2 linked regions of the Homo sapiens genome follow. The protein of the gene in region 1 purifies or fractionates together with the protein of each later gene. This does not show direct contact. Each region holds a gene or a part of one and is shown in the gene's direction. Other genes may lie near its edges. The genes, in order: ATP13A3 and AGPAT3.

Evidence for each region.
Region 2: the proteins of ATP13A3 (region 1) and AGPAT3 purify together in Homo sapiens (co-immunoprecipitation; 2 studies listed by BioGRID and IntAct, with this or other methods). This does not show direct contact.

Annotation. Positions count from the first base shown.
Region 1 is NC_000003.12:194,474,106-194,485,599, reverse strand, and holds part of ATP13A3 (polyamine-transporting ATPase 13A3), read left to right. Parts: intron 1-2,501; exon of another isoform or gene 2,502-2,618; intron 2,619-11,494. UniProt on the Homo sapiens protein: ATP-driven pump involved in endocytosis-dependent polyamine transport. Uses ATP as an energy source to transfer polyamine precursor putrescine from the endosomal compartment to the cytosol.
Region 2 is NC_000021.9:43,867,792-43,879,285, forward strand, and holds part of AGPAT3 (1-acyl-sn-glycerol-3-phosphate acyltransferase gamma), read left to right. Parts: intron 1-11,494. UniProt on the Homo sapiens protein: Converts 1-acyl-sn-glycerol-3-phosphate (lysophosphatidic acid or LPA) into 1,2-diacyl-sn-glycerol-3-phosphate (phosphatidic acid or PA) by incorporating an acyl moiety at the sn-2 position of the glycerol backbone.

The DNA of each region.
Region 1 (11,494 bases):
GAAGTTAGAATTTAAGGAATCTAAGAAATGCAGGGACTTGAAAGATTATTGCAAAATAAAGCCTTTAAAAAGTATCGTTGTTAAAATGAAAGTGTTTCGATTTGATTCCTTTGAAGGGTGAGTACGTAATGAACAGTGCTCTATCTTTGGTTAGAGCTCAGCCTCTTTACCAAGGTACATGTATTAATTTTGTTTCACTGGAATATATGTGACATTATTTTCTCTAGAGGTTTGTTGCTTTGCTTAATAGACTACAGTTGCCAAAAATCAATGTGTGTGGGCATCTCATCCTGGTTTGCAACCCCTTTAAGGCAAATCAGTGCTTGGAAGTTGTTCGAAGTAGTAAACCTATTATTAATGATTGTTGTAGAACATAACTTTTGCTGGTATCTTTGATTTGCATTATCCTACCATTAGATCAGGCAGAGAGTGAAATAATTGAGATTTTGAGCCTTGTTAGAACAACAATGCCTGGCTTTGGTCAGGGGATTGGGTAGGAAAAGTGACACTATTTGGTTGCTTTAAATTTTTTTTTTTTTTTTTGAGATGGCATCTTGCTCTGTTGCCCAGGCTGGAGTGCAGTGGTGTGAACTCGGCTCACTGTAACTTCTGCCTCCTGGGTTTCAGCGATTCTCCTGTCGCAGCCTCCTAAGTAGCTGGGATTTCAGGTGTGTGCCACCACGCCCAGCTAATTTTTTGTATTTTTAGTAGAGACAGGGTTTCACCACGTTGGCCAGGCTGGTCGTGAACTACTGACTTCAGGTGATCTTCCTGCCTAGGCCTCCCAAAGTGCTGGTATTACAGGCGCTAGCCACCGAGCTTGGCGGTTGATACTTACATAGTTAGTTTAGGTCACCAAATATACAACACACAGAATCCGCTTTGGATAAACCACATTATCGAGCTCATTTTGAAATCCTATTTCTGTCTTCAAGATTTTCGAGATTATAAACCACTTTGTTGTCATTCACAAGTATAAAGTTCTTATTTCCAACATCACTGAGACTGAGAAAAAAGACAGAATAAAGATAAAGTTCCATAGGGCGTCCCCATCACTGCTTATTCTCACTGAGTTTGACCATTGAGTAGGTTGTATATCCATAGTAATATGATATAGTGCCTATGTCCTAAGATTACTATTTATCTTAGGAATAAAGCATATTCATATTCTAAAACCTCATATTCACAGTAGTTACAAAACCACCACGTTATACAAGCATAGTTTGATTCAATATATGGAATGGAAGAAGGAAAGAAACCATTATGTGCCAGGAAAAGTGCTCCTTTCTTTACATATGGTCTCAACTAATCCTCAACACTTTCAGGTAACAATATTCTTCTTTGTTAAAAAAAAAATTAAAGAAGTTAAGGAGCTTACAGTATAAGCGACTTTGAAGACAGACAGAAACCTAGCTCTGTGTTAATGTGCTTAACACAGAGGTTTCTGTCTCTGGGTTTATAAGGTTAGTTGTATGTGACTAGGCAACATAACATCTCTGAACCTCAGATTCTGGTGATAAATCAGATATGTCATCTTAATAGGTGTCACACACTAGATCACCTTCTTTTAGCACACAACTGTGAACTGTTTTGACTGTTTTCTTTGATAGGTGATAAGCTGCCAACTCCTATTCCATTTATCATCCATTCAAATATAGCTCAGTTTAACTCTTAGATATGTTGTACTCATCCTTTTCTCCCTTCTCTCTCCCTCCTTAGAATCACATTTCTTATTTTTTAAAGTTTTAAAAACATTTTTTAATACTGCTTCTTGCAGAACAGGGCTGCTCGATAGGCAGTGTGCCTGGAGTAGCCAGAAGAAATTAGAAATTAAATTTCTTCTTGGTGTTACCTCTGAATGTATTCTGAATATGCCATATCTCATCTGGATCCAAGAGGTAGCTGATGGGATTTAGCCTTGGTTTTGGAACATAGTTTTTGTGAAAATGAAGCTAATTGGCCTATGGAGAGAGTAAATCTGTAGTCGTCAAAACCATGTTGAGTTTTTTTGAGATAGGGTCTTGCTCTGTCTCCCAGGCTGGAGTGCAGTGGCTCTGTCATGGCTCACTGCAGCCTTGACCTTCTGGGCTCAAGCAGTCCTCCCACCTCAGCTTCCAGAGTAGCTGGGACCACAGGTGTGCACCATCACACCCAGCTAGTTTTTTTTTTTTTTGTAGAGGTGGGTTTTCACCGTGTTGCCCAGGCTGGTCTCAAACTCCTGAACTGAAGCAGTCTGCCTGCCTTGGCCTCCCAAAGTGTTAGGGTTACAGGCATTTATCACTGCACCCCGTCCTTTTTTCTTTTTTTTTCCCCCCAGAGAAAGAGTCTCGCTCTCTCACTCAGGCTAGAGTGTAGTGGCACGATCATGGCTCACTGCAGCCTTGAGTTCCTGGGCTCAGGCGACCTTCCTGCCTCAGCAACAAGGGTAGTTGGGACAACGGGTGTGTGCCATCATGTCTGGCTAATTTAAAAAAAAATTTTTTTTTTTTTTTTGAGACGGAGTCTTGTACTGTCATCCTGGCTGGAGTGCAGAGGCGCGATCTCCGCTCACTGCAACTTCCGCCTCCTGGGTTCAAGCGATTCTCCTGCCTCAGCTTTCCGAGTAGCTGGGATTACAGGTGCCCACCACCATGCCTGGCTAATTTTTTGTATCTTTAGTAGAGACTGGGTTTCACCATGTTGACCAGTCTGATCTTGAACTCCTGACCTTGTGATCCGCCTGCCTCGGCCTTCCAGACTGCTGGGATTACAGGCGTGAGCCACCACGCCCGGCCTTTAAAATTTTTTTGTAGAGATGAGTATCTCGGTTTGTTGCCCAGGCTTGTCTCAGAACTCCTGGCCTCAAGTGATCCTCCTGCCTCAGCCTCCCAAAGTGTAGGAATTACAGACATGAGCCACCTTGCCCAGCCAAAACCATGTTCTAATTAACCACTTAAGTTCAAATAGCATGCAAGAAGCAAGGAAATTGTTAGGTTCTCGTTTGAGTTTTGTTGAACATCATATTTTGAGAGTAGAGAAGTAAGAGAGGCTCAGATTTCTGGCACATAATTTTAATTAAGATTTAGGTTTAAAAAAATGAAAAAGTTCTGGGCTCAAATTAATCTGGAGAAAAGTAGATATTTGTAAGGTAGAAGAAGGTCCACAGTTAATCAGTTATCACTAGATAACTAGTGATTATAAAAGGAGTTAAAACGATTTGTGTTAGTAGGTTATGCACAGTGACTCATGCTTGAAATCCCAGTGCTTTGGGAGGCCAAGGCAGGAGGATGGCTTGAGGCCAGGAGTTTGAGACCAGCCTGAGTGACAAAGCAAGACTTTGTCTTAAAACAACCAAAAATAATTTGTATTAATCAGGTTAAAAATAGAGGTAAAATGAGATGACATGAGTAAATGGTAATTGGAAAAAATGATCACTGTTATGATAGTTTAAAAAATGACTTTATGGTAATCAGTAAGAAGGGAGAAAAACGGAATAAAGGAGAGAACTGTCCAAATAAGTGTCTGACACTGAGGAAGGTTGTTTGAGGATGGTGATTGCTGAAAAGTTTCCATAAAATGATTCTCTAGAGGGAACTATGCCAATACCATATCTGTTAACATCTTAGACCCACAGGGTCATATTGGAACCTTTGCTAGAGTCTGAGATGGTAAAACATTAACTCGAATAGTAAACGTCAAGACCGCAAAATTAATCTGTTAATCAGAATTTTGTCTTTTTTGTTGATTCTTACACTTACTCCCTGTGGATCTTGGTTTTAAATGATCAATTGACACTCAGAGACTAGTTAGATAAGAAATTAAATTTCCAGAAAAAGTCACTTAAGTATGTAAAGTAGAATTTCCTAATTATGTGGTCTGGAAATTGCTGATGTCTACAGAATCTTTCTCAAGTTTGAAGTAAAAATACTTGTAACTGATGTTGGGTGGTAAGGTGAAAGATGGTTCTAGCTCAGTGAGTTTTTCTTATTTTTTTTTCACAAAGGAGTTGAACATTGAAATAAAGAGGTGTGAGACTGGAAAATAATGCGGAGAGATCATGGATTATTTAGATTAGTGCCTTTTTAGAGAAGAGGAAAGTGAAGTAAGTGACAGCATAAAGGATCCTTTATGGTCTAACCCCAGATCCTTTCTCTAGCTTGGGTGTTCCTTTCACCCTTGCTTTAATTTTGTACTCTGTAGTAATGGCACATCTCAAAACTTTTGCATTTTTTTTTTCCAGTGAGAGCCAACTTTTAAGGGTTGCCTTTGCTTGCTTGACAGACTTCTTGAAACAAACTATTTTTAGTTTGTTTAAAATGAGTCATGGAATTGCTCCCACATATGTGTCTAAGGGTGGTTTCTTCATAGCATCCCTGTTGCTCTGTTTTTTTTTTTTTCCATTTGTGAAATAGGATGAAATATATTTTAGTTATTTATTTTGATATAAAAGACAAGTGTTTTGGGTCCTGATTTTTTTCTGATTGATCTAAAGAGCTGAATAAAGTGCAATCACTGCTCATGGGGCCTTTGGGCCTAAATTCTCAGATAAAAATCCTGTGTAGTCAAAATTACCCTTGGAAAAAGTCTTTTAAAAAGGCACCAGTTTGAAAACTGGTTGGAAACTGACATTCTGTCTTTCAATTCTAGTGTCCAGTTTTTCCTGTAGTTTTAGAGAGGTCCCTTTTTTGGTGAGCTGGAATCCTCACCAGCTGTGTGAGACCGTTTTGACAGGTGAATGGGTCTTAGATTGACTGAGCATAGCGGATTTATAGTCTTCATTTCATGCTCACTCTGGGACAGGGATGTAAAGGAAGGCATACTATCATCATTATTCAAATTATTTTTCTCTGTTGCTTCCCCCCAGAGTGTAAGTAGTTGAATTGGTTTTAATTAAGTGCATATATGATGTGACTCCACAGTGTGAATAATGGAGAAATAACTTAGGTATTTATGAACATCTGCTATCTCCGTAAGGTTATGCCACAAAAAGATCTAGTATAATTAAAAGGCTAGGTAATAAAGTTGAGAATATTAGGAGATTATTGGTACTGTCTGTCATTCTGAGGGGATACTCAACTACTTTGAGTGTTTTTGTTTTGTTTTTTTAAAGAATAAATTTATTCCTTACTGCTAGCAAGATCTGCATTGTTTTAAAAGAGCGATGTAAATTATTAATGGATTCCATGAAATTTAAAGTATCTAAACTTAAGTATTACTCTGGGGATAGCACAGTAAGAAAACATGAGTATGTAAAAACATGATGGTGGCTAAAAACTTAACAGTCTTATGTCCTGGGAGAGGGCATGGTGTATTGGATAAAAATGTGGGCTTCAGAGCCATAGTGATTTTGAATTACAGCTCTGTCACATACCAGTCTTGTAGTCTGGGTTAAGTAAGTCACTGAACCTCTGAGAGCTTTTTTATTTGCCAGATAGAGGTGATAAAGGGTACCTTAGAGAATTGTAAGGATAAGAGTCTGAGTGAAGGGTAACTTATTATTTGTTAACTTAGTAACATTGAAGATATTCAAAACAAGTCAGATGTGTGTGTGGGGTGTGATTGATGATTGCTCTTTGTTTTTTTGTTAACTGGAACAGCAGGCAATAATGTTATATTCAGGCTTTTTATGTCCAAAACAATCTATGATTTTGTATCTTTAGTAGCAACATCCTCAAAAGCTCAAGATGTTAACCTCATGTATCTCCGATATACATTTTATGTATATTTTAGTTTTTCTCTTTGTGTCTCTGGTGTGTTTGCAGTCTGTTTTCTCTCCCATCTTGTTACTGTTACCCAATGTCTCTGTCTCTGACCACCTTATAAAATTTAAAACTATCTGTAATTGTATTTATTTTATAGGACTTTATATGCATTATTTTCATTTAAAAATTCTGATTAGTCAAATATTTCTACTTTTTTTTTAAAGAAGACTTTGAATTATATTTCAATTTTGTGACCTTTAGATTTCTTTAAACATGGAATCCTAGTCACTGGTTCCTTATAGACCGAAGATTTTTCTTTTTTTTAAATTTTATTTTATTTTACTTTATTTTTTTAGACCAAAGATTTTTCATTCATCTCTAGATCATGCCTTAGCTTCTTAAGTCACCAGTTTTCTAAGCTCATTTACAATTTTCATCTGTAGTTTCCTTGTTTCTCCTTTTTTTAATGTTTATGTTTCTAATTTTCCTAAGCACAAAAGATAGAAACCTATTTAATGCTAATTATAATAAGTAGATTAGTATACTAAGTAAAATGTAAAGTACAATAGGCAAATGACATAATTTTGTCTGTAGCACTTACTTGAAAGACTAGACTAACCTAGCACACGCTTAATTGAAATATTTAATGGGTCTTTTTGATATGAAAATGTACTTTTCATAATTGTCAGCACTGCCTTAGAGTTAGTTGAAGAATAATTTTAAGCTAACCCATGGTTTTCTGTTCAGTGTTTGATGAAGAGAATAGAATAAGCTCATTAATTTAGTCAGATTCAGAAGCATCTTAAAGAGTACCCCCCGCCCCAATCCTTTCTAATCTCTGGTGCGGCCCATAGTGACTCACTATTCTTCATGTTCCCTTAATAGTTGTGGCAATGATAAGTTATTGTAGTGTATAAGAGTTGTGATTTTATAGGTAGCAAGGAAGGGGGCTTGGTTAGGGCCTCTTGGTTATGCCTTTAGGACTGTGTTGGTACTTCTAACTATTTAATAGTGTTTTAGTTCCTGTACATGCCAAACACAGGGCTGGATGCTGGGGAGACATCGATGAATGAGTTCTTCTCTCTTACACATACACAGTCCAGCAGGTAAACACTGTGCTGTTGCATTGCACAAGTCCAGAGGATACCATTCACGTTGTATTCTTCAGGAATATGGCTCCTTGGCCTGGCCTAGGATCTCTTTCAGGTGACAAAAGTTCAGAATCTCCATCACCTACAAGATAATCTGTATTGTTTATCATGTCTAACAAGACCCTTCCTTATAATCTGATCCTGTCCTATCCTTCTAAACCTCCATTTGTAATTATTCCTCAAAGGCTATCACCCCGTGCACCAGTCAGTTTAAATAACTTGTTTTCCTGGCATTTTTTAGGATCTCTCACTATAGTACCTCTGCATGTGGCAGTTCCCCTGCTTGGGTTTCATCTCTCTATTTTCTCCCTAACATTTTTCCTCTTACTGCTTGTTTGCTTGATCAAGTTTACATCCTTCTGGTCTTAGATCAAGAGATAGTTCTTTTTTGAAGTCTTTTCTGTTCTTGGTTCTCTCTTTCTCCCTGGTGCCATTGGTCACCATTTTGTTTGATATTTGTTTGCTTACTTATTTGTCTAGCCTACTAGATGTGGTTCCTTAAGGTTAGAAATTTAATCTTGTAACCTCCAGCATTTAGACCACTAGTTGGCACATGGTAGGCAATACCATTCTAACAAATGAGTTTTTATGAAATCAAATTGGCAATAAACCAGAATGATTATTGCTAGAATGCTAATTTAATATTTACAGATTTATCTGAAAAATTAGGATACTTGACAACATCTTGGTTTTCTGATTTAATTTACCTTTTTCTAGTCAAGCAGTAGTTTGGGGTTAGATTTCAGGGAACTGCTTGGCTAGAGTGAAGACACTGTTTTAAGTTCATTGGTGAACATGTTGGTGAGAACTTTCTGTCTGCTGAAGAATTAACCATAAGTGGTCTCAAACTAAAACAAAGACACAGAGGTATTCAACCCAAGAAGAATGGATGATCTGTAGGATGGTAGTGTCTGCCCCAGCTCTGTCTCTACCTGTAGCACTCACTGCAGCTAATCTGTAGGAGTGGATGAAGTGAGGTGGAAACACTTCTGGGGGGCCCAGTCAGGAAGAGACTCCTAGATGCTTCTGGGCCAGTCTTTCTGTGCGATAGAGTGTCCACTCCCCATATCCTCTCCATACTTCTTTTAAAATTTTGTTTCTTAGTGATTCATCTTAGGTTAACAGCTATGAGAAGCTGTCACTAATTTATGTGTTAACTTCTGAACAGAAGGATCCTGATTAAGAGGAAGAGGAAGGGTTGATCTGAAGAACATAGTGCTGTGGTGGAGGTTGTGTAGAGTTCCATGAGGTCACTAAGGGACCTGGGAACACAGGATATTGGGAGAGCTGGGAAAGGGGAATAGGGATGAGATGCGGGAGCATGCCAAAGACAAAATTACTTTGTTGTCAAATTTTGCCCACAAAAAGAAGAGGGATTCCACCCCTCCTTCACCCAGTCTTGCCCTGTCTCCTTTATTCAGCTGCACTGCTGGATGCTTGCCTGGTTCCCAGCCTTTAAGGTTTTTAGTCTATAAGTTCAACGTTGTTGGAAAAGTGCTCTGATACCTGCAGAGGTGGGAGAAAGGTGGGGGCAGTCCTCTGCTAGGAGATGGAAGGGACAATCAAAGCTTAGTAGCTTGAGCTGGTCCTGGAAGAGCAAGTAGGAGCTCTTTAGCCAGACTAAGAGAAGGGCATTCTTGGCAGAAGGAATATTCTATATAAAGAAGTGGAGTCAGGGAACAGTAGGGCTCTTTGAAGAACTACAGATTGTGTTCTAAATGAATGACATGTAAGGTTTGTAAGGGGCGAGTGATAACCACTGATGAATGGCAGATGGTGTTGACAACTAGGCGGGGCCAGAGTCTGTAGGATCTTACATGTCTTGCAATCAGTTTTGACTTTGACCTTGGAACCCAGTTGAGGCTCCCTTCCGCCCCAGTTCCTCATGGCAGGGAAATACATCATGTTGTGCGTTGTAAGACTTCAAAACTTTGCTAGTGAGAGGCCTGCTTAATATTATTTAATCTAGTTCAATTTAATTGTTTTGAAAAAAAAAAAAAACAACAACTTACTTTGAAGGTACTCTTTTACCAGTTTGGGAATTGCTACTACAGACAACGGGAAGCTACTGAAGTTTTATGTAGAGAGGGAAATGGTCATATCTGGCTGCATACAGACTTGAATGAGGGAGACGAGGGCTCAGGACCTGAATCAAGGCAAAGCTGATGGAGATAGGCATGGTGAGGTGGATTTGAGAAGGGTAGTCAAAAGATGAGTGGCCGGTTGGATGTAGGTGTGAGATAGGAAGAGTTCGAAGGTGACTTCTAAATTCCTGGCTTGGCTTTTTAGGCAACTCATACTCATTAAAGGAGTAGGGGGAATTGGTGGTGGCTGGGTGGTGGGGCAGATTTTTTGGAAGAAAGAGAAAATGAACCTATTGAGTGTTAGCTGTCTGCAAACATGTAGTTGAATCTGTGGGTCTGAAGCACATGAGAGATTAGTGCTGAAAATGTGAATTGGTAGTTGCCATCGCGATGGTCCAGTAGTGCCACCCCTGATGAGATTGTTACAAAGAGAAGAGCCTGAGGAATATTAATAGGAAAATTAAGAAGCGGGCAGAGGAAATGGAGGCTTGGTAACCTGGCTACCTGCCCAGCAACCCAGGCTAGTGTAATGTGAACTGCAGCTCAGCAGAGTTGTAAGAGGTAAAATGGGCATTTGTGGGCTATCTTAGGAATCTAGACACTATTTTCCTTATGGAGAAATGCATTTCAAGTACATGTGGAGTAAGAATTGGTTTTTAAATGAATTTTGTTCCTTGAAAGATGGTGCTGCCTACGTGTCATTCCTTAAATTTGTTGGTAAGGCTTTTTGATGTAAAGTCACCCCATGCTTGACTTTCTGGTGAAAATGAAAAATACTAATCTTGGTTAAGTGAAGATGATTTTTTCCTGGTTTTGAAAGGCAGTATTCTGGTAAGTAAGAGTAGATAATGCCCATCAAAGTGTTGTGTAAACTAAATATTCCCATACAGGCGTCACTATTGTGGTTGTTATAGTGCCTAAATACATTGATTGTGGGGTGTGTCTGTGTGCGTGTGTGTGTGTATGTGGTTTTTTTTAAATCCTGGATAGTGGCATACAGGACAGTCATAGGAGGTTAGAAAGTTAACATTTTTATGATGGTTGTGCTGTGAATAAGGTGATTAACTTCTTCAATAGCAACTTATATTACTGTATTTTTGAAGTATTTGTTGAATGTAAATGTTACGGCCTTTGCATTGTCTATGCTGGGTTAGCGTGGGTAGGTTTCAGATTAGACAAAGGACTCAAGTAGAAAAACCCAAATTCATGTAACTTAAAGTTGACCCAAGTACCTATGAGTTACATTTATACATTTGCAGGATTTTACTTTTTGTACAGAATAGCTTCCTAGTGATTTTGTGCTTCTTTGTGGTTGGATTTTTCAAATCAGAATCTGGAAGAGTGAAATATGAATCATTCTGTAGTGTATGTAGATCATGAGGAAAACTAATTTTGCTTTGTTTCAAATTGCACAGTAATTCTGAAGTGAACCATACAGAAGTAATGAAAAAAATTATTTTTAGGTTTGCTATCAGTAAGAAAAAACAAACATTTCTGAGGTTTATATGTTTTTAACACACTGAAGACTTGGAGGTATAACCTCTGGAAAATTTTCTTCCACTCTTCTTTTTTTCTTCTCTACTCTTCCCTATTCCTATATTATTCCCTAGCATCCCCTTTTTCTCATCCTAGCTTTTCCTCTCCACCGTGCTGCGCTATTTCAGTATCTTTCTATGCAGAACGTTACTTTTTGTTGTATTATGCAACTACAGTGTAATCTTTTTGAATACTTTAATTAGTAATTTAAACTCAACATAGTCTTAGCAACAGTGCACGTTACTTAGCTGGCATGACCATAGTCTGAGCGGTGTGGCCAGTGTGAAGCATGAGTGTGCAGTGAGCACCGCATCACAGCAGCCACTTGCCGGCAGCAGCTGTAAGGTTGTATCTAAGCAGTGTCTTGATTTTAGCTATGGTAAAATGAGAATTCATGAATGTTTAAATTTCAGAGACCATCTTTAATTTGATGACTGAAATGTCAGCAGTTATTTGAGATTTTTATTAATAGCATTACAGTTTCAAATGAATAGTTGTTAATTTGCATTATAATGGAAGACATTAATTTACATATTACTCAACAAAAACTTTACCTTAACTCTGAACTAAAAAGTATAATTTTTAGTTTGGGGGAATTAGGCTTATTTATCATTTGGTTTGTTTACACAAGCTGTTATTGAAACTCTTGATTTGTCAATTTCTATTATATTAAGTGCCCATGCCACACGATTTCTTTTCTGCTTATTTTAACATACTCCTATTTCCAGCTGCTTGGAAGGCCAAGGTGGGAGGATCCCTTGAGCCCAGGTGTTTGAGACCAGCCTGGCAAGATGAAGAGACCTCATCTTTATGGGGGAATTGGGGGAATTAGTTAGGTGTGGTGGCTCAGGCCTGCAGCCCCTTCCTGCTCAAGGGAGCATCCCTTGAGCTGAGGAGTTGAGGTTGTGGTCAGCTGTGACGGTGCCACTGTCTTCCAGCCTGGGTGACAGAGTGAGACCCCATCTCTTAAAAAAACCCGAAAAACTCTTTTATTTGTTCTAACTAGGTGTTTTTGCTTTTAAATACCCACTGTCACCCCCCA
Region 2 (11,494 bases), on another chromosome or scaffold:
TGCAAGATTTTTGTTACAGTAAAGTTGGACTGAGTTTTCTAAAGACAGTTGCTCAGAAATTTCATGGGAATTTACTTTTGGTTAACCGAAGAGTGTTTGGGGTTTTAAACGGGTCGTTTCAAGTGGTAAAGTAACATGACCACGAGGCGTCTGTCCTTCCTAAAACCACTTCATCATAATTTCAAGATTGATTCTAAATTACCAATTTCAAAGCGCTGCATTTTAGGCAAGTGCATTAATCGTTCACCTTCTGACAGGCTTTCATGTAGTCATTTACAAGCGGCCATGTTTTGATTATCTTTGTCAAGCAAAGTGCAGGAGACAGGCAGTCTCATAACCTTGGGGCAGTGTCTGTGTTTAGTTTTGGAGGCGGGAAGGCCGAGTTGATGGTGAAAGTTGGCCATTCTTTCTGCAGGGCCAAAGTCTGTACCTGGCTATTAGGGTGCATGGATGCTGGGGTTAAATTGGCCACGTCTTTTCCCAAGCCTAGGTAGAAGGATTGCAGATAGGATATGTTTTAAATGTTACTGGTGGTGAATTGAAAGCAACACAACTATCCTTCAGTGTGTGACTGGCAGAAATCTACCTCCTGGCTAGCGTGCCCTGTGTCACTTAAGACTCAAAGTGGAGCTGGGTGCTCTTGGTGGGACAGTGTGCCTGCAGCCCAGAGGCCTGTCCCCAGTGACTGGGAAGGCTATGCATCATTGTTGGAGATGGTCTCGATTCCTTTCTGAAAGCGGGTAGAGAATGAAATGCATAATAAATAACAATAATGATGAATTATAAAATGAGCAGCAGTAACAAGCTGTACAAGGAAATACCTGTCCTGAGATCGATTACTCACCCCTGACTGTCTGCCCTCCTGATTCTCAGCCAGGTGCTGGGAGCTGAGTACCGGCGCTGCAGCCACGCTGGCTCTTGTTCTCTTCCTCATGTCCTATTAGCTGACCTGACACTAAATCTGTCACCTGCTTTATGACATGCTTACCTTATTATTTTATAAGCTCCTCTACATCCCTGTAAGGAGAGTGGTATTGCCCCATCACACAGAAACTGACAGAGACACTGACATGGGAAACTGAGTGGGGAAGTGTGGCCAGCGTCTCAGCTTGGGCAAATCTAGATTTAAACAAAGGTCCAATAGAATCCAAAGCTGTTATTCTTTCCACCAAACCACCTTGATGCTCATAAGATCCAATAGATGAAAATCTACATTTCTGAAACGGAGACTAAGTCATTGGCTTCACATACACGTATTCATTTAAACACTTTTCACTTGTAGAAGGCCGTACTTGCTGGACTGGGGGCTCTGAAATCTCCATCTGAATTGATAGAAACAGATACATGCTGGATATGGAATCAAGAAGAAAATTAATTCAATTGACGTAAATTCATCTATGCTCAGCTTTTTACGGTACACTTGGTGGGAGTAAAATGAAGAGCTGTTTATTGACTCCTCATGTGAAGAATGTGCTGATGATTGGGTTAAGCTTTTCATAGATTGATTTCTGATTTAGGCCATTGTCCTAGTCTAATTGGAGTGATTGATTGAGTGAACAAATGTGCATTTTATTAGGGAGCTACACATAATTTTTGCATTGAGAAATTAACCAGTTGTTATACTTTGTAAAATATGGTGTACTAGCATTGATTTTTGCCAAAATAGACAGAAGTCAGATTGTTAGAGGAAGACCGCGTCAGTTTGGGTTATGCACTTGTCAGTTTGGGAAGCAGGTGCCACGATGAGATGGGAAGTGCAGGAAGAAACCCTGCAGAGGATGGTGGGGGAGCACCAGACCTCCAGGCAGGTCTGACCCCCGTGAGAGGAGGCGGAGGGAGCAGTGCTGGGGAGGAGGAGCCTCAGACCCAGCCCTGAGTTAGGCACAGCCAGCCCAGTGCCAAGTGGACCCCCAGGGTGGCCCTGCGTGAGTACCCGCTTTGGTCATTACCCCTGAAGGGGTCCCGAAGGTGTCTCAGCAAGGAGGCTGTGGCTCACCTGTCTCCTCACCTGTCACCTTGAAGCGGCTTTCTCTGGCAGAGCTCCATGGCGGCCTCAGAAACAAAGTTTAGGGACTTAAAATTTTATGCATGTATTTTAGAGGTGGGGCCTCACTGTGTTGCCCAGGCTGGACTCAAACTATTGGGCTCAAGCGATCCTCCCACCTTGGCCTCCCCAGTAACTGGGACTACAGGTGCTGCCACCACACGTGGCTAAGTTTAGTGACTTTTGATAATCCACAAAAACAAAAGGAACAGTAAAGACAATCCCAACTGTGACTCATTATGCGGCACGGGCGGGCGGGATTTTGGATTAGTTTTAGGAAGCGAACCACAGCCGTCCTCCTTGGACTCCCTGCCGTGGCTGGCAGTGAGCTGGTGCAGGGAGGCGAAGTGCTGGTGTTCTGGGAATTTTCAAATGCACTACAGCGATCAGGACACACGTGTTTCAGTGCACACAGGTTATTTTCAGTTTTCTAAATCAGGAGCTTATTACTATGACTTAAGTTCTAGAACATTGGTTAGAAAATATGTTTGTCGTGCAGTTCAGTTCCAGCTCCAGGCTAGCATTGCATTTTCCTGGAGCCCCAAAGCCTTTGTAACTTTTACTTCTTTTCTTTAAATGTTAGTGAATTATTGGGTCCCCGGGTGGTGGTTCACACCTGTAATGCCAGCACTTTGGGAGGCTGAGGCACGTGGATCACTTGAGGTCAGGAGTTCGAGACCAGACTGGCCAACATGATGAAACCCCATCTCTACTTAAAAAAAAAAAAAAACCCAAAAATTAACCAGGTGTGGTGGCGCATGCATAGGTCCCAGCTACTCGGGACACTGAGGAAGGAGAATGCCTTGAACCTGGGAGGCGGACCTTGCAGTGAGCTGAGATCGTGCCACTGCACTCCAGCCTGGGTGACAGAGCCAGACTCCATCTCAATAAATAAACAAATAAATAAATGTTAGTGAATTATTCAGTATATAATGTTTCTTTTTGGTGAACAAAGCTATACAGGAAAATCGTAAACACAGATTCTGACAGGGTCCAGCTAGGAAGGTAAGTGAGAATGCAGACATGAGGCCTATGAAGGGGTGGCTGTGGTGAACATGAGTGAGAGACTGAGGCCTCTTTCACAGGGTCTGGCTCACCTGACCACCCGCTACTGACCCCCAGCTGAGCAGGGCCAGGTGGGTATAGGACCAGAGTGACTCCATCTTTAGTCTTCCGAGAGAAACCAGGTATCTGGAGTTTTATATGCAATGTATTTATTTTTAACAAACTGCACACGCCAAATTACAAATGTTGCCAACTGAATTCAACTGGGGCTACTGTTTTTACAGTCTCTGGGCTACAGTATTTATTTCTTGAAACAAAGTAACTGAACTAATTAAATGAGGACAAAACACGCATTTCCAAAATGCAGGAAGAGAGGGGGAAAAATCCCAAGAATTTATGTGCAGATGAAACCAAAAGAATCATTGCCTCTGTCTCAGGGATGGCTGCTGGAAACAGCGTTCTCTGATGATGCTTAGAGGAAAGGAGAAGATGGTACTAAGAGAATAAGCATCAATTGGAAAAACAACGTAACTCCACGTGTCTTTAAGGGCCTACGGGAGACCCTCCCGTAAGATCTATGCAAAGATAAAGCCTGCAAAAAATAATGTTTTCAGAATGCATCCATACATTTACCAGAAGCACTTCTAATCTTGACCTGTTTACATGGAATGTTCTATGTCCATGTCTCTGGACACACGTGATCCACATACCCGTCAGCACTTGGCATTGCTGTTGATTTTCGCAAAGCTGGTAGATGCAAAGTGTTGTGCAGTTGTGGTCTTGATTTACGCCTGCCTGCTGGATGAAAGTGAGCATCCTGCATATTTATTGGTTATGTGTGTCCTTCCCTGTGAAGTTCCTGTTCATGTGCTTCATCCATTTTTCTTTTGGGTGATGTCTTTTTCTCACCTATTCCTTATATATAGTTTCCATATTATATATTTCCTTATAGATTCAGGATGTTCATCTTTGGCTGTAATGTGTGCATTATATATTTTTCCCAGTTGGGTTTTATCTTTTCACTTTTTTTGTTTTGGTGAAAAGATAGTTTTAATGTAATGTATAATTTTATCCATCCTTCTTTTCTAGGTAGTGCCTTTTGCATGTTACTTTAAGTTCTTCCCAATTCTTGGGTCACAAATGTATTCTGTATTTTTCTGTAGAAGTTGTAAAGTTTGCTTTCTCTGCTTAAGCCCTTTATCTCTCTAGAGTTGACTGTGCAGGTCTTCCGAGGTGTCTTTTGATAAAGCACCGTGGTATTTCACATTCCACCTGACACTCTGTGCTTACATTTATTCCCAGGTGCCCTTATTATTGTTCTTGCTTTTGTAAATGGTGTTTTTTTTTTTTTTTCTTTTGAGACAAAATCTTGCTCTGTCACCCAGGCTGGAGTGCAGTGGCAGGATCTCAGTTCACTGCAACCTCTGCCTCCCGGGTTCAAGTGATTTTCCTGCTTCAGCCTCCCGAGTAGCTGAGATTACAGGCATACGCCACCATGCCTAGCTAATTTTTGTATTTTTAGTAGAGACAGGGTTTCACCATGTTGGCCAGGCTGGTCTCGAACTCCTGACCTCAAGTGATCCACCCACCTCGGCCTCCCAAAGTGTTGGAATTACAGGCGTGAGCCACCGCGCCGGCCGTAAATGGTGTTTTTTATTTTTATTGATTTCTAAGTCTTTGCTGGTGTTCTGTAGAAATGCAGTTGACTTTTGGGTATTGATTTAACAGCTGATCACCTTGCCATTGCTTAAAATTTATTTGTAGATTTTGGGGATTTTCTCAGTAGACATTCACGTCATGTGGGAGTGGTGAAGACTCTGTTTCTTCCTTATATCTTTCGTATTTTTCCTTCCTGTTTTGCTGCCTGGGCCAGGCCCTCCTGAGCAGGGCTGTATGGAAGTGTGACAGGCCATCCTTGTCCTGTTCCTGATTTTAGGGAAATGCTTCTACCATGCTGCCTTCCGGTGTGGGTACAAACAGTGGCCGTTTAGTTCTGAATCGTCCCACTCTGCCTCCTTGAAGCAGAGGAGGCCTGGTGTGAGAAATACAAACAAAGTGACCCAAAAGCAAGGAGCTGGAGAGATGGAAGATCCACTGTCATGGGTCACCGGGAAGACGCAGAAACAAAACCACAGAGAGCTGCGGCCTCCCCCTGCCGGGACGGCGAAACTTAAAAGACTGTGGGGACAAGTGCTGGAGAAGATGTGGGGGCAGACAGAGCACTGGTGCCAGCGTGGCTGCTTTGGGAATGGCAGGAGCTGCAGGGAGATGGCATCGAGTGGCGGGTGCACCTGCCGTGTGCTTCCCGGGGGACATGCTGAGGTGCTCATAGTGGCATGGGTGTTGGAGTCAGACCCCGGGAGCTCTCTCAATGCCTGTCTCCAAATAAAATGAAAAATAACCTCGTGCTACATTCGCCATGGAAAGGGGAAGGAAGGAGCTCCTCCAGGCCGCAACATGTGTGCGCCTCCGGAGGATAACGCTGGGTGGAAGGAGTGAGCCGCAGAAGTGTATGCAGCACCTGACTTCATCAAGGTAAAGCACGCGCACCAGCAAAACCCATGTGCCCTGAGGACTCCGGCTCTAGTACCTGGAAGGAGAACACAGGGCTTCTGCATCCTCTGCCTCCCGGGTTCAAGCGATTCTCCTGCCTCAGCCTCCCGAGTAGCTGGGATTACAGGCGCGCACCACCACGCCTGGCTAATTTTTGCATTTTCAGTAGAGACGGGGTTTCACCATGTTGGCCAGGCTGGTCTCGAACTCCTGACCTCAGGTGATCCTCCCACCTTGGCCTTCTAAAATGCTGGGATTACAGGCGTGAGCCACTGCGCCCAGCCCAAGTTGTCAGTTTCTTGATACAAAGGTCAGAATATTTTCTTAATTTTTAAATCTCTACTATATCTGACAGTAAATCACCCTTTTCATTCCTAAAATGGTTTTACCTTTCTTTTCTAGATTCATCTCACAGAGGCTCATCTTTTTTATTAGTGTTCACAAAGAACCAGCTATCAGTCTTACTCATTTTCTCCACTGTGTCTTTGTTTCCGTATCACTAATTTCTGCTCATTGTCAGGATTTCCTTCTACACTCTTTGGGTTTATTCTGGTGTTCTCTTTCTAGGTTACTGAATTGAAACATTTTCTTTTCTATTTTCTCTAAGCTTAGTTTCTTAATTTTCAACTTTCTGTCATAAGTATTTTATTATTATTTTTTGAGACAGAGTCTCCCTCTGTCACGCAGGCTGGCGTGATCTCGGCTCACTGCAACCTCCGCCTCCCGGATTCAAGTGGTTCTCCTGCCTCAGCCACCTGAGTAGCTGGGATTATAGGCGTGTGCCACCATGCCTGGCTAACTATTGTATTTTTAGTAGAGACAGGGTTTCACCATGTTGGCCAGGCTGGTCTTGAACTCCTGACCTCAGGCAATCCGCCCACCTCGGCTTCCCCGAGTGCTGGGATTACAGGCATGAGCCACCACGCCCGGTCCTGTCATAAGCATTTAAGTCTATGTAGCTTTCCTACTTAGTTCTGCTGTACTGTCGTCTTGTTTATTTTGATATGTAATATTTTCATTGTTCAGCATTTTACAATTTTATTATTCTTCCATGACCCATGAATGCATTTATGTCCAAAGGCATTGAGGATTTTAGGTTGTTTTTATTATGATTTCAGCTGAAAAGCCTCATGGGCAGAGGGATATAGTCTGTATAGCACTGAGTCTCTGGCATTTCTTTAAGGATTGAATTCTATTATGTATCTTCTGGCTTATAAAGTTGCGGTTAGGAAGCCAGCTGTCATTTCAATTGTCCTTCCTGTGTCAGTAGTAAGCTTTTTGTCTGGCTGCTTTTATAGTCTCTTTATTTCTGGTGTTTTTCAACTTGACTGTGGTCTTTCTAGCATGGATTTCTTTTTGTTTATCCTGTTTTGGATTCATTGTACTTTCTGAAGATAAAGTATCATGTCTTTCAGCAATTCTGGAAAATTTTCAGCCATTATTTTGTTCAATACAGTCATTCTGCGGTATCCACTAGGGATTGGTTCCAGAACCCACCATGGATACCAAAATTAGTGGATGCTTAAGTTCCTGATATAAAATGGTGTCGTATTTGTATATAACCTGTGCACATTCTCCCATATATGTATTTTTTTCTTTGTTTTTGAGATGGAGTCTCACTCAGTCGCCCAAGCTGGAGTGCAGTGGCACGATCTTGGCTCACTGTAACCTCCGCCTCCCAGGTTCAAGCAATTCTCCAGCCTCAGCCTCCTGAGTAACTGGAATTACAGGCGCCCACCACCACGCCTGGGGTAATTTTTGTATTTTTAGTAGAGAAGGGGTTTCACCATATTGGCCAGGCTGGTTTTGAACTCTGACCTCATGATCTGCCCTCCTCGGCCTCCCTCCCGTGTATTTTTAAATCATCTTTAGATTACTTATAGTATCTAATACAATGCCTATATATAACTTCATTAATGTGGATTTAATATAGTAGAGAGCAGCAAATTCAAGTTTTGCTTTTAGGAATTTTTCCACCCAAATATCTTTGATCCACAGTTGGTTGAATCCACAAATGTGGAACCCCTAGATATGGAGGGTCAACCATACAGCATCTGCCTTATGCTTTGCTTTCTCATACCATCCTCCCAGCCACTTAAACTCTCGTTCATGTTTTTACCTTTCAGTCTTTTTATGCTTCATTCCAGGTTATTTCTTCAGCTGTCTTCCAATTTAGCAACTCTATCTTCATCTCCATCTACTGTGCTATTTAAATAGGTATACATTTTTTTTGAGATGGAGTCTTGCTCTGTTGCCCAGGCTGGAGTGCAGTGGTGCAATCTTGGCTCACTGCAACCTCCGCCTCTTGGGTTCAAGTGATTCTCCTGCCTCAGCCTGAAGAGTAGCTGGGATTACAGGTGCCCACCACCATGCCCGGCTAATTTTTGTATTTCTAGTAGAGACGGGGTTTCACCCATTTGGCCAGGCTGGTCTCAAATTCCTGACCTCAGGTGATCCACCTGGCTTGGCCTCGCAAAGTGCTGGGATTACAGGTGTGAGCCACCGTGCCCAGCCTCTGCGCTATTAATATTTAACCTGTTATTGTTGTTCTTTTTCTTTTTTCTTTTTTTTTGTTGGTAGAGATGGGGTCTTGCTATGTTGCCAGGGCTGGTCTTGAACTCCCAAGGTCAAGTGATCCTCTCACCTCAGCCTCCCAAGTGCTGGGATTACAGGCACCATGCCCAGCCTAACCTGTTCTTTTAATTTTCATTTTTTTAATAGTTATATTTTTCATTCCTGAAAGTTCTCTTTGTTTTTTTCCAAGTTTGCCTCTCCTCTTGTTTGGTATTCTTTTCCTTACACTTATTTTTATTTTCTCTTTATGTCTAAACATACTTATTTTCTATACTGTAACTAATAATACCAAAGTAATACCGATAATAATATTAACAAATACTAAAATTTGAATTTCTTGAGGGTTGGACTCCGCCACTTGTTCTGCTACCTCTTGCTCCCTGATCCTTGCCTGTCACACACTTTGTGATTTTGGATTGTGGGCTCATTTCACATGGGCTTTGTCTGTGGATTCCTGCAAGGCTTGAAGGGAGCAAAGCCTCCCTGGAGAAGCCCTGCTCCTACCAGGAGTCCAGGAGTGGGACTGATCTAGAATTACTTTAGGCTGATTTCCTGGGCTCACAAAGGGGATGTCTAAAGACATAATTGACTTAGATGGAAAGTGATCCTACAGCAGAAATCTGAGATTGAAGAAATTGCTGATGGTGGAGGTGGATCTACATAAATCCTGATGAGTGAAACCGTAATGAACAGTAGAAGGAATGTCACAGATTAGATATACCAAAATGACCAGGCTGTCTGGGGGGAAATTTTTTCTCACTCTAAAACTACCTGGTGGAGGACAACGTGTAATTTCCAGGGTGTTTAAAGCTGGGAAGCCTCCCCACTGAGCACGTCATTATCAAATGCTTTTCACCAGTTTTTGTTTTGTTTTGTTTTGTTTTTTGTTTGTTTTATTTGTTTTTTTTTGAGACAAAGTCTCACTCTGTTGCCCAAGCTGGAGTGCAGTGGTACGATCTTGGCTTACTGCAACCTCCGCCTCCAGGGCTCAAGTGATTCTTGTGCCTCAGTCTCCTGAGTAGCTGGGACTACAGGTGCATGCCATCACGCCCAGCTAATTTTTTGTATTTTAGCAGAGATGGGATTTGACCATGTTACCCAGGGTGGTCTTGAACTCCTGAGCTCAGGGGATCCGCTTGCCTTGGCCTCCCGAAGTGCTGGGATTACAGGTGTGAGCCACCATGCCCAGCCCACCAGTTTTAACAATTGCAAAATGTGACTCAGATTTTGTCCTTATAAACTTAACCTTTTGTCGACTTCCCTGTCACCCATCCCACCTGAGATGCTTTCTGCTGCTTTAGCACAGGCAGACTAGGTTGCCATTTCAATTGGCTTTCTTCAGATGACTTGTATTCGGTAGCTGAAGAACTGCTGTACATATACATGGCATATGCCAGTAATAGTTAAAGGGCATGTGAGGTTTCAAAAGTAGAAAATAAATGTGAAGGAAAAGACTAGGAAGCACCTGAAATGGTGCTATTCTTTTTTTTTTCTTTTTGAGATTCACTCTTGTTGCCCAGTCTGGAGTACAATGGTGCCATGTTGGCTCACCACAACTTCCGCCCCCCGGGTTCAAGTGATTCTCCTGCCTCAGCTTCCTGAGTAGCCGGGATTACAGGCATGCACCACCATGCCCTGCTATTTTTTTGTATTTTTAATAGAGACGGGGTTTCTCCTTGTTGGTCAGGCTGGCCTTGAACTCCCGACCTCGGGTGATCCGCCCGCCTTGGCTTTCCAAAGTGCTGGGATTACAGGCATGAGCCACTGCGCCTGGCTGAAATGGTGCTATTCTTGGGATCTGGCTGAGGATATCTTCCCAGCAGGCCCATTCCCATCGTTGTTCTGGTATCACCATCTTGTCCCCTCTATCTTCTGTCTCCACTGGTGTCCAGGACAGAAACCTGGGCCCCATCTATGACCCCCTTCCTCCATCTCCCACACCCCCTTCCCCATCTATGGCTCCTTGACCCTCACGATTCCCCTTGCCCGCCTCCTGCCCCACCACCAGCCTCGCTTTCGACTGAGACTGCCCGTGGTCTTGCGTGGGGTCGCTCCAGCTCAGATCCCATCACACTTGTTCCCCACAGAACAAGAGGCAGCCTTTCAGTGGCCCTGCGCTTTCCCCGCCACTGCTTGCTCAGCCCCCACCCGTGATGACGCCTGCTGATGTCAGTGTCCCCCGACCTCACGCTCTGCACCCCCACACCCGGTCTTCAAGCTGCCCCACTGGCCACACTCTGCCTTGGACTTTAGCCTGCCTGGAACACACTTTCTCCTTTTGCCTGGTGACTTCGACCTGGATGTCACTTTGCCGAGGTGGCCTGCTCCTATCCTGAGTGTGAGTTAGATACACACACACACTTAATGCACAACGGAGTCACGTCGTGGCTCTGTCTCTGCGGCCTGCCCGCTTCAGTTCACATTGCACTGCTGACCTTCCCATTTGCCCCCTCGAGGGAGGGCTGCACTGGGCTCCGCTGTGTGGACACAGCCAGCTGTGGCCAGCCCTGTCAATGGACACTGATGCCGCTCCGTTTTCCCAGTTATAAATATGATGGGCATCCTTGTACAGTTCTTCTCTAGTCAATGTCTTGAAGGTAAAGTCTACAGGTGGATTGCTGAGTAAAGGGTCTTGCCATTTCAAAGACGTTAGACACGTTGTTGCTGATTTACCCTCTGCAAAGATCACGTCTGTTTCTACTCACACCAGTAGTATTTGAAAGAATGACACTGTTGTAGATGTTTAATAGTTTTTTATTTCCATTTGTCTTTTTTTTTTTTTTTGGACACAGAGTTTTACTCTGTTGCCCAGACGGGAGTGCAGTGGTGCAATCTCGATCTTGGCTCATTGCAACCTCCACCTCCCGGGTTCAAGCGATTCTTGTGCCTCAGCTTCTGGAGTAGCTGGGATTGAAGTTGCACGCCACCACACCTAGCTAATTTTTGTAATTTTTGTAGAGATGAGGTTTCACCATATTGGCCAGGCTGGTCTCAAACTCCTTGCCTCAAGCAACCTGCCCACCTCGGGTCCTAAAGTGCTAGGATTACAGGTGTGAGCCACCACGCTTGGCTTGTCTTCTAGTTTTGAAATTCAACATGCCACTGGCTGCAGTGTCTCATGCCTGTAATCCCAGCACTTTGGGAGGCTGAGGCAGGCTGATCACTCGAGGTCAGGAGTTCGAGACCAGCCTGACCAACATAGCAAAACCCTGTCTCTACTAAAAATACAAAAACTAGCTGGGTGTGGCAGTGCGTGCCTGTAATCCCAGCTTCTCAGAAGGCTGAGACATGAAAATTGCCTGAACCCAGGAGGTGGAG